3 linked regions of the Homo sapiens genome follow. Changing the gene in region 1 together with any one later gene gives a genetic interaction. Each region holds a gene or a part of one and is shown on either strand. Other genes may lie near its edges. The genes, in order: RALGAPB, ACACA and ATG7.

Region 1 (3,655 bases):
GGAGTGCAGTGGTGTAATCATAGCTCACTGCAGCCTCAAGCTCCTGGGCTCCAGTGATCCTCTTGCCTCATCCTCCTGAGTAGCTGAGACTGTAGGCACATGCCATGGCACCCAGCTCATTTTTAAAATTTTTTGTAGAGATAGGGTCTTGCTTTGTTGCCCAGGCTGATCCCAAACTTCTGTCTTCAAGTGATCTTCCCACCTCAGCTTCCCAAAGTGTTAGGATTACAGATGTGAGCTGTCACACCCAGCCTAATTAAAAAAAAAAAAAAAAATATATATATATATACACACACACACACATACATATACACACACACACACACATATGTATGCTGTGTATAATTTAATGAAATCTTTTGGGGTGCAGTTTATTTTATTACATTTGTAATTATGTGAATAATACTTGAGAAGTTGGAAAAATTCAGATAACGAAGAAATTTTAAATCACCTTTACTCACTATCCAGAGGAATATAACCACTGCTAATATTTTATTGGATTTCCTTCCCTTTTTTTCTTTTCATACACAATAACACTTGAATAGAATTTGAGTCATTTTGTATACTGCTCTTTTCATTTATAACATTGTAAGCTTTTATTTCTGCTATTAAAAATATAAAATGTCCAACAATGATAGACTGGATTAAGAAAATGTGGCACATATACACCATGGAACACTATGCAGCCATAAAAAATGATGAGTTCATGTCCTTTGTAGGGACATGGATGAAATTGGAAATCATCATTCTCAGTAAACTATCGCAAGAACAAAAAACCAAACACCGCATATTCTCACTCATAGGTGGGAATTGAACAGTGGGAACACATGGACACAGGAGGGGGAACATCACACTCTGGGGCCTGTTGTCGGGTAGGGGGAGTGGGGAGGGATAGCAATGGGAGATATACCTAATGCTAGATGACGAGTTAGTGGGTGCAGCGCACCAGCATGTCACATGTATACATATTTAACTAACCTGCACATTATGCACATGTACCCTAAAACTTAAAGTATCATAATAAAAAAATGTGATTAAAAAAAATTTAAAATGTGACTTAATATTTCACTAGCATTTGAGAGACACCACAAAATTGGAGCATGTGCCTAAAATCATTTAATATCTTAGATGTCTCTGTTAGATGTGATGTGTTTATCACCCAGTCCTCCATTTTTTTGGAGGGGGCAGTACAGAGCACATCCTGTCATCAACTCTGTAAGCCAGTAAGTTAGCATTGAAGACTGAAGAGGAAGGGGACCAGGAAAGGAGCTAAAATTTGTTTAGGGTTCACCATGTACCCATATACATATTAAAGCATGGATTTGGAGCTGTGAAGACCTAGATTTGGTGCCCATACTCTCAATTAAGCCGTATTAAGATTCTTGTTAAAATCACTTTCTAGAGATGCCCAGTGAAGCCAAACTTGTCTTTAATTATATTGAATGATGTGAGAGCCCCTGGGGAAGAGAGTTTGAGTCTTAAAGCTCCAAAATGCTATACCCATTGGATAACCACTGAATGTGGGAGATTCAGGCCTGCAGCAGTAGAGGTCCACAGCCCATTTGTCAGTCATTAGATCTATAAGAAGTCGATGAATATTTTTAGAAAAATAGAGTACACAGGGGCACAGGCTGCTTCCCTTTGCTGTTATCTGTAGCATTTGCAGGTTCTGAGTGAGTTTTTGTGACATGTAATCCTAGGGAAACACAGGCATCTAAGAGACCAGGGAAATACATGTCATTACAGATGGGTATTGGACCCTGTGTAATAAACATAATGTTACTTGTTTTAACAGCTTTTTGTACCTGAACCTCGCCCAGTTCCTAAAAATGACGTTGGATTTAAATATTCTGTGAAACATCGGCCATTTCCTGAAGAGGTGGACAAGATTCCTTTTGTGAAAGCAGATCTCAGCATTCCAGATTTGCATGAAATAGTCACTGAAGAAGTAAGTACATTATTTTTAGCTGTTGTCAAGGGGATGAATAGAAACATTCTTACGACTTCCTTGGTCAAGACAATGCTTTTAGTGTTGTTGGAGATGATTTTTAAGATGACATGGGCCTCCATCATCCAGGAGGTTGCCATGTTTAAGACGAATATAGATTGTGGCTGATCGAAAGGAACTGCATATCTCTTAGAGGTGTTGCTGGGCTGCCTGGCTGTTCGTGGTAGGTTTCAGTACTGTAGTGACATGATCAGACTCTGGTAGTAGAGTTATTTGGAAAAGGAAGACCAGTTCAGAGACTATTATGAGAATCTAAGTCTTTATAAGAAAGGAAGGACTATTTCACTCATATGGAATTTTAATATATAAAATGTATTGTGGAGGTAGATCCAAGCAGTCTTGAATTGGTGAGGGAAGGAAAAGAGCCAAAGAATTTCAGATTTTGAGCTTGAGTGACAAAGAGATATCAGTGCCATTTACAGAAATGCAGACATTAGGAAGAGGATAGATTTGGGAAGATGGGAAAAATTTATTTGGCTTTGGATTAATTTAGAGAGTTAATTAAGATAACTGTCTCTTAGGTCAAGGGAGAAGAATTTTAAGAAGTCGGGGACAGAAGTATGTCAGGACATGAGAGAACAGAAGAGCAGGAATGGAGGAAGGGCTACACTCTCCAATGCTGGAGAGACCAGGGAGAAGAAGGAATAGAAAAAGTCCCCTGAATTTTGGCATGAAATTTAGGTGACCTTTGAGAACAGGTGTGTACAGTAGGAGGGATAATTCAAAGGGCTGGGGAGTGAATGTATTGAGGGACAGGCAGTGAATAGAAACTACACTGTTAACAGTAAAGGCAAGGGTACAGAATGGGTAATATTATAGCTTAAGGAAATGGCCTCGTTAAGGAAAGAAAAGGCTGATTTTTTTTTTTTTTTCTGAGATGGAGTTTCGCTCTTGTTGCCCAGACTAGAGTACAGTTGTGCATTCTCAGCTCACTGCAATCTCCGCCTCCCGGGTTCAAGTGATTCTCCTACCTCAGCCTCCCAAGTAGCTGTGATTACAGGCGCATGCCACCATGCCTGGCCAATTTTTGTATTTTTAGTAGAGACGGGATTTCACCATGTTGGCCAAGCCGGTCTCGAACTCCTGACCTCAGGTGATCCACCCTCCTTTGCCTCCCCTCAAAGTGCTGAGAATTACAGGTGTAAGCCATCGCACCCGGCCAGAAAAGGCTAGTTTTTAAATATTTTTTTACATTCAAGGATGTGAGGATTATGAACATGCTTATAGATTGAAAGGAAGAAACCAGTAGAGAGGAGTCTGGCTAACACTGTAAGATGGGCAGTGGGACTTACAAGTAATAGAGGCAGTAGGGTCAAGAGTCTAGTCTAGAAAAGAGATGCTTCTAAGACAGAAGGAGAGAGTAGGTGAAGGTTCAGAGACATTTAGAGAGGAAAGGAGGGAAATTGAAGAAGTTTATGAAAATTTTAATCCTGGTTCTTGGCAGTGTAATAGGGGATCCCAGACAGTTCTTAAGAATTGCCAGGCAGTGCAGCTGAGGTTAAGTAGCATTATCTATAGTGAAGTTATTTAACTCACTCTGCTGACTTTCTTCAAAAGTCCTTGGGATCTGGAAGCATAAGTAAAGAATTTGACTGGTGTGGAGATTGACAGGTGTGGAAATTTGGAAGGAGGTTCAACACAGCCATT
Region 2 (3,655 bases), on another chromosome or scaffold:
ATTAGGATTAATTACTAATAAACAAATGCTATTTATTAGTAATTAATACTAATAAACACTTATTAATTACCTACTCCATGTACAGTACAAAGGTAAAGGGAATGGTATTAAATGTTTGATACAAGGCAATAAACCATTAAAAAACAGAAAAGAACTAGTTCAAGTTTCAATTTTAGATAGATATTCCAAAAGATCTAAGCTGTTAAAATTACCTCCTTCAGCCCTATGTTTTAGGCAAGCAAAAGTGCTGTTAATTTAATATTCATTGTTTATGATTAACAGAATATTATCTAACATTTATGATATAGCAGTTATATTTGCATAAGCTGTTATATACAGCATGCTAAGGTCTCTTGTATTAGCAATGTAGACAGTTTCTTTATGTCCTTTTCATAATATGAGCAGTATAATTTTATTATTTTAAATAACTATAAGAGTACATCATGGTGACTATGGCTCATAACAATAGATTGTGTACTTGAAAATTGCTAATAGATTTTAAGTCTTCTCACAAGAAAAAAATAAAATAAAAGTCTATGATTTATTTGATACCTAGTTCTTGGCCAAGAATCTACCTCCCCTCAATAACAATACTGTTCCTGTGGAAAAATAAGATACCTTTAAAGCAATCAATTTTATACATTTATCAAAAATATTTGAAAGGAAAAATACTTCAAAAGGCTCAGAACAACAAACAGAAAAACATCTGCCAAGCACTGCATAATTTAATACAACATGAATGCAAGTGTAATTAAAGATATTCAAAATTTCTTCAAAAAGGTTGTTCATATTATTACTTTGACAGCAGATGATTCCTATTCCCATGCTCACACCTTCACTTAAGATTAGCACAAATTTATTTTGTAAAATGCAATCAAATGCTATTATACTCACGAAATTGCCTCTTCTCTGTTTTCTCCCCAAGAAAAGCAGTGACCAAACTGAGAATCAGCAAATTCATGAAGTCCCCCTGCAGCAGCAACACTGAAATATCCCCAAACATTCTTATTGCTGCGGAAATTTAGCTCCTGAACTGTTCCTGAGCTGGGCTTAAAACCCTGTTAGAGAATAAAGAATGAGAGACCATATTATGTTTCGAAGGAAGAGAAGATTTATATATTCATTGTTTAAGTTCTCTGTTAATCACACACAGAAGCAGAGAAGACACACAAAAATGATAAAGGCCAAGACCCAGTGCCACAGACCCACTGAAGACTCTACAGTGACTTAAGTGGGATTAAGTAACCAATGAAGCAACAACCATTTACTTATCTGCTCTGAGAAACCTCTATGTTTCCCACTCCAGAGGAAGTCCCAAGATATTTCAGAAGTATACTTTCAGATACTATCTTAACATTAAAGTTCATTAAAAGGAGGTATAAACCTTTTAAGTGATGGGTTACCTCATCTGGATTTTCACTAGTGATCCGAGCAGCAATAACATGGCCCCTTGGACAAGGAACGTGTGCAGAATCTTCAAAATCAATGGGAGAATCACCCCAGGGAGATACCCCATACATCATACGGATATCCTTGATTCTATATAGAGGAATCCCCATGGCAATCTGAAAGGTAATAAAACACACATCTTTAATTTTTCAGTTACTTCCCTTAAAGTGTAGAGGCTATCAGATAACCTAAAATATTTTTATTTTTGGAGCCACTCCCTAAAACATTCTATTTTTATAACCTGTATTCTACAATCATCAACTCTAAGTTGCTTGAAATACAATATATCACTACAGATAAGTAGTTAGAATATTCTCCACTTCTAAAGAAGTCCCCACATTCCTAATGCAACAGACACCAGTTCCCCTGTTGTCATTTCTCCATCACGTAATAAGAATGAAAATATCCAACAGAGGAGTAAATGTTAATAGCCATCCAAAAACAGACAGCTAGAAAGTCTTAATTGTGTCATAATTATCTCTTCCATCCCTGCAAACCACTGGAGGAAGTAAGTAAATCTTTAGTCTTTAATAGGAACCCAGAAGGTGTTCTCGATGTGGGCAAATGTTAGATAAAAATAATATCAAGCCTTATCATTAACTATTACTGCTTTCCATAATATTTGTTTCCTGGGCTGAGAGAAGACAATAATATTGACAGCAAGCACTTTACAAATTATAAAAATATATGTGTGCTACCACACTCTTGTAAGGAAAAACTTCAACCACTAATCTCTGATGCAGAATTATTTCAATAAAGAACACTAGTAAAAAAACAAAAATGAGTAGGGAATAATTATAATACAAAGTTGTGAAGTTTACTATAGCTAAATAATTGAATAAAGCATACATTATTAACATTTATTTCTAAAACATGACACATTATATCAGATGTGTCTGGCTAGAAAAAATAACATTCCTATGTCTGTACTACATCAGGAAAACCAAACCACACATGCATAACACATACAGGGTGAAAGAGAAATGACCATTAGGTGTGACTCAGATAGGAGGTGCTTTTCTCTTATCACACACTGGTTAAACCCATTTTTCAGGCCTCTCTGACTTTTCTAGGCTCTGCAACCCAGATCAGGGAGACTCACCTGGAGCTGTGCTGCAGGGAGATTGACATCAGCCACCATCTCTGTACAAGGGTGCTCTACCTGCAGCCGAGGATTCAATTCCAGAAAGTAGAAGCTGCCATCCTGGCTGTACAGGTATTCCACAGTCCCAGCACTCACATAACCCACCATTTTGGCAAGTTTCACCGCACACTCAAAGAAGAGAGATAAGCAAACATAAGTATCTCACCTTATCCAACTGCTAGACCACTACAGCCTCTCACTGACTCAACTGTTCAGTGTGTATAAGAGCCATCAAAAGCTTTTAGCCACATGAGAGCACATTTCTGATTATTATACAATATCCCTGGACAAGGATGAAAAACTCAATGAAAAATCGGGAGAAAAGAGCATTTTTCACTTTGCATCAAAAGCAACCTCACCCCACCAGACATAAATGCATGCAGACAAAAAAACATGGGGACAGACTCTTGTCCAGTTTCCAGTATTTCCAATATGCTCCTCTTCTTCCTAGAAACATAGCTAACTAGTTAGAGACTAGATTTTTTTTTTTTTTTTTGAGACAGAGTCTCACTCTGTCTCCTGGGCTGGAGTCCAGTGGCACAATCTCGTGGCTCACTGCAAACTCTGCCTCCCGGGTTCAAGTGATTCTCCTGCCTCAGCCCCCCAAGTAGCTGAGATTACAGGCATGCGCCACCATGCCTGGCTAATTTTTGTATTTTTGGTAGAGATGGGGTTTCCCCATGTTGGCCAGCCTGGTCTCAAACTCCTGACCTCAAGTGATCTACTCGCCTTGGCCTACCAAAGTGCTGGGATTACAGGCGTGAGCCACCATGCCTGGCCTGGTTAGTGGCTAAGTTTTGACAAACAGGACACCAGCATTGGTAAGTGATATGCATAACTCCCAAGTCATATATATATATATATATATATATATATATATATATATATATATATATTTTTTTTTTTTTTTTTTTTGGAGATGGAGTCTCGCTTTGTCACCCACCCAGGATGGAGCACAGTGGCGCAATCTCGGCTCACTGTAACCTCCGCCTCTCGGATTCAAGTGATTCTCCTACCTCAGCCTCCTGAGTAGCTGGGATCACAGGCACATGCCACCATGTC
Region 3 (3,655 bases), on another chromosome or scaffold:
AAAATGAGAAGCTGACATGGTTCCTTTCTCATAGAATTTTTATTCTACTGAGGAGGATAACTGCATACGTGCTATGAAGGTAAGGTAGTTGGTGCTCTTTGAGGACTAGAATACAGGAGGATCGACCTAATCCAGAGCTGAGGGAGTCAGGGAAGGCTTCCCTCAGAAGTGATGATTGAGCTGTGATTTGAAGTGAGCAAAGAAATTCACTAGATGATGGGTATGTGGAGGTGGCCAAGAAAATTCTAAGCTTATGCAGAGGCCATGGGGTGTTTCTGCAGCTGATGATGTGGAGCTGAGTCAGCTTCCTCCCTTTGCCTGGAGAGTCCCCACTCCCTACCTCTAGCCTCCTCATCCAGGGGTCCTTGCATGGGGCTAGTGCTGTCATCTAACCCTCCCTTTCTCAACCATCAGGGGTGGGTTTAGAAGTTTGTGGAGCTGTTTTATTTTGCTTTGTTTTGTGACATTGACCAGAGGGCATTACTGCATTTATTGAGAGAGAGCCAGAGATGCTCAACATTCTGCAGTGTGCAGGGATAGCTCTAAACAAAAAAGAATTGTTCCATCCAGCATGCCAGTAGGGCCCCTGTTGAGAATCTACTTGGATGTTCTTAAAACCTTGGGTTAAGGGTTTCTATAGGATATTCTTAAAACCTTGGCTTGGCTGGGTGTGGTGGCTCACGCCTGTAATCCCAGCACTTTGGGAGGCCGAGGCGGGTGGATCACAAGGTCAGGAGTTCGAGACCAACCTGACCAACATAGTGAAACCTTGTCTCTACTAAAAATACAAAAATTAGCCAGGCATGGTGGCGGGTGCCTGTAATCCCAGCTACTCAGGAGGCTAAGGCAGGAGAATCGCTTGAACCCGGGAGGCAGAGGTTGCAGTGAAGCCGAAATTGAGCCACCTCCCTCCAGCCTGGGTGACAGAGCAAGACTCTGTCTCAAGACTCCGTCTCAAAAAACAAAAAATAAAAAGCAAACAAACAAAAAAACCCCACCTTGGCTTAAGGGTTTCTATAGGAAACACTGTTGCCTCATCAGTCTAATTTAGATATCCCTCCTCCTATAACATTCTGTACAAACGCCAGGCTATACTGTATTTGTTTTACCTCCAAATTGCTATACTCCGATTCCTCTTCTGTTTTGTTGTCTGTTTTGGCTTCAAAATTGTTAGCTCTTTAAAGGTGGGGACCATAGTTTTTTTTTTTTTTGCCATTGAACCCTGAAATGTAGCACAGGGACAAGTATGTAACATAACTGTTTATTGAAGAAATAACTAATGGAAGCCCCAATTTCATTTCTTTTCTTTTCTTTTTTTTTTTTGAGACAGAGTCTTGCTGTGTCACCCAGGCTGGAGTGCAGTAGTGCTATCTCAGCTGACTGCAACCTGCGCCTCCCGGGTTCAAGCAATTCTCAAGCTTCAGCCTTCCGAGTAGCTGGGATTACAGGCGCCTGCCACCATGCCCGGCCCTTTTTTTGTATTTTTAGTAGAGACGGGATTTCGCCATGTTGGCCGGGCATGTTATTGGTAAACAATATGATATTAGTCCTGCTTTTTGAGTGTCTCCTATGGGCCAGATGTATGCATTTTCTAGTTGAATCTTCACACTAATTCTGCACAGTAGGTGGTATCCCCATCTAACAGAAGAGGAAACAGACTCGGAGAAGTTGAATGACTTGTCCAAGGTGGTGTGGCTAGAAAGTAGCAGAGACAGGATTTGAACTCAGGTCTCTCTGGCTCATGAACCTATGCCCTTTCCAGTCTAGCAGACCATCTGCCTTGTCCAGTTGTTTTCTTGAACTTAGATTTAGGGCCCTAGATTTACCTCTATGAAATTTCAAATCTTGTTAAAATAGGCCTGCCATTCCAGATGGTTGGAATCTTTTTTTATCCTGAATTTTAGTCACTTGTATTGCCTGTTTCTTCTTTTGTCATGAAATTGATAAGCAAATCTATATCATTATCCAAGTTATTGGTAAAATATGGTAATAAGAATACTTTATTGAATATGTTTATTTGCCTATTCCCCCTGCTCTTAGCCCCAGCACAGGGTTCAGTGCACATGAAATACTTAGTAAATGTTGATAAATATTCATTCATGTGGATAAATAAAATAAATTGGACAGGCCCAGAGACTAAGCCAAAGACGTACTGCTATTAGCTCCTTTCTAATTAACATTAATTAATTCAGTAACCAAGATCCTTTGAATAAGATTATTTTACCAGTTCTTAATCCCTCTAATTATGTCAGGATCCAATTCCTGTATCTTCACCTTGTCTACCGGGATTTCTAGAGCAGCCTTGTGAGAGACATTTCTGAGACCTGTATGTCCTGCGTCTATGATTCTTCCCTGATCAAGGTAGGAATGCAGTTACTCTGTCATGACTTTTTCTTAGAGAAACCATATTGGCCTCTTGTGATTACTTAGGGCTGCCTCATACAGTTATGCAGGCTGTGCACTGCACAAGAGGCCACATCAAAGGGGGTTCCATTTATATCATAGGTATCATGGGTGCATTTTTGTAATGACAGTGGCAGAGAAGGCTACCATGTCTTGAGCTAATCTAATCAGTATATTACAACATTTCTCTAACTAAAGGAAGTAAAATCTTGAAGCAGAGGTGTAATTTTCTGATTGTACAAAGGTGCTAAGTGGACTAGAGTGGCCCATATGGGCCTTTCCTGGGAGCAAAACTTCTGTCCAGTGGTCTTTAGAACCCATCTTTATTCTTATCTTTGAAAAATCAGGCCGGGTGTGGTGGCTCACGCCTATAATCCCAGTACTTTGGGAGGCTGAGGCAGGTGGATCACCTGAGGTCAGGAGTTCGAAACCAGCCTGGCCAATATAGTGAAACCCTATCTCTACTAAAAATACAAAAAATTACCTGGGCGTAGTGGCGGGCGCCCATAATCCCAGCTACTTGGGAGGCTGAGGCAGGAGAATTGCTTGAACGTGGGAGGCAGAGGTTGCAGTGAGCCGAGATCGTGCCATTGCACTCTAACCTGGGCAACAAGAGCGAAACTCCATCTCAAAAAAAAAAAAAAAAAGAGAAAAGAAACAAAGAAAAATCAAACATTTTGAAAATCGGAAATCAGGCCTTTGCTTGGCCCAGTTTTAAAGTACTTCTCCCGTTTCTCAGGATTCTTTAAACATACCAGAAATGAAAACCACAGAGATGTAATTATTTAGAAGCAAGCCTTCATAACTCAGCCAGCTTTTAGGAAACCATCATAGATTTTAGTTGTTGGTTGGCATAGGGCTCCACAGTGATTTAGACAAATCCAGGTGGGTGTCTCTCAGATGAACAGAGAAATGGGCAACACTGTTGATCAGTGGAGGTAACAAAAGGACTCAGAAGGAGGCACACTGCCCTCCATCTTCCTGGCATTATTGCTTCCTCTCTCCTCTTTCCCACATTTTCTCAGCTGTCACTGTCCCTCCCATGTAGGCTTCTCAAACCCCATAATGCTGGTATCCAGTGCATCCGTTCTCAAAAACTGAAGCTGATGGACACCAGATTGCATGTGAAGGTGAAGGATATTATAGCAGAAGGAAACCAAAATAAAAGAAAAACAGCTCCTGGAAGTAACCAATGAGAAGGACAGATAAGAGTTTGAAGACTGTGGATGTGACTGCTTGTTCCCTGGTTGAC

What was found.
Region 2: changes in RALGAPB (region 1) and ACACA together harm fitness more than expected from each alone (negative genetic interaction), as found in Homo sapiens cells (one large-scale study listed by BioGRID).
Region 3: of RALGAPB (region 1) and ATG7, changing one enhances a phenotype caused by changing the other (phenotypic enhancement), as found in Homo sapiens cells (one large-scale study listed by BioGRID).

What each region holds. Positions count from the first base shown.
Region 1 is NC_000020.11:38,549,276-38,552,930, forward strand, and holds part of RALGAPB (ral GTPase-activating protein subunit beta), read left to right. Parts: intron 1-1,795; coding exon 1,796-1,948; intron 1,949-3,655. UniProt on the Homo sapiens protein: Non-catalytic subunit of the heterodimeric RalGAP1 and RalGAP2 complexes which act as GTPase activators for the Ras-like small GTPases RALA and RALB.
Region 2 is NC_000017.11:37,256,809-37,260,463, forward strand, and holds part of ACACA (acetyl-CoA carboxylase 1), read right to left. Parts: intron 2,723-3,655; coding exon 2,552-2,722; intron 1,566-2,551; coding exon 1,404-1,565; intron 1,059-1,403; coding exon 895-1,058; intron 1-894. UniProt on the Homo sapiens protein: Cytosolic enzyme that catalyzes the carboxylation of acetyl-CoA to malonyl-CoA, the first and rate-limiting step of de novo fatty acid biosynthesis.
Region 3 is NC_000003.12:11,278,742-11,282,396, forward strand, and holds part of ATG7 (ubiquitin-like modifier-activating enzyme ATG7), read left to right. Parts: exon of another isoform or gene 1-79; intron 80-2,252; 5' UTR 2,253-2,361; intron 2,362-3,428; exon of another isoform or gene 3,429-3,451; 5' UTR 3,452-3,655. UniProt on the Homo sapiens protein: E1-like activating enzyme involved in the 2 ubiquitin-like systems required for cytoplasm to vacuole transport (Cvt) and autophagy.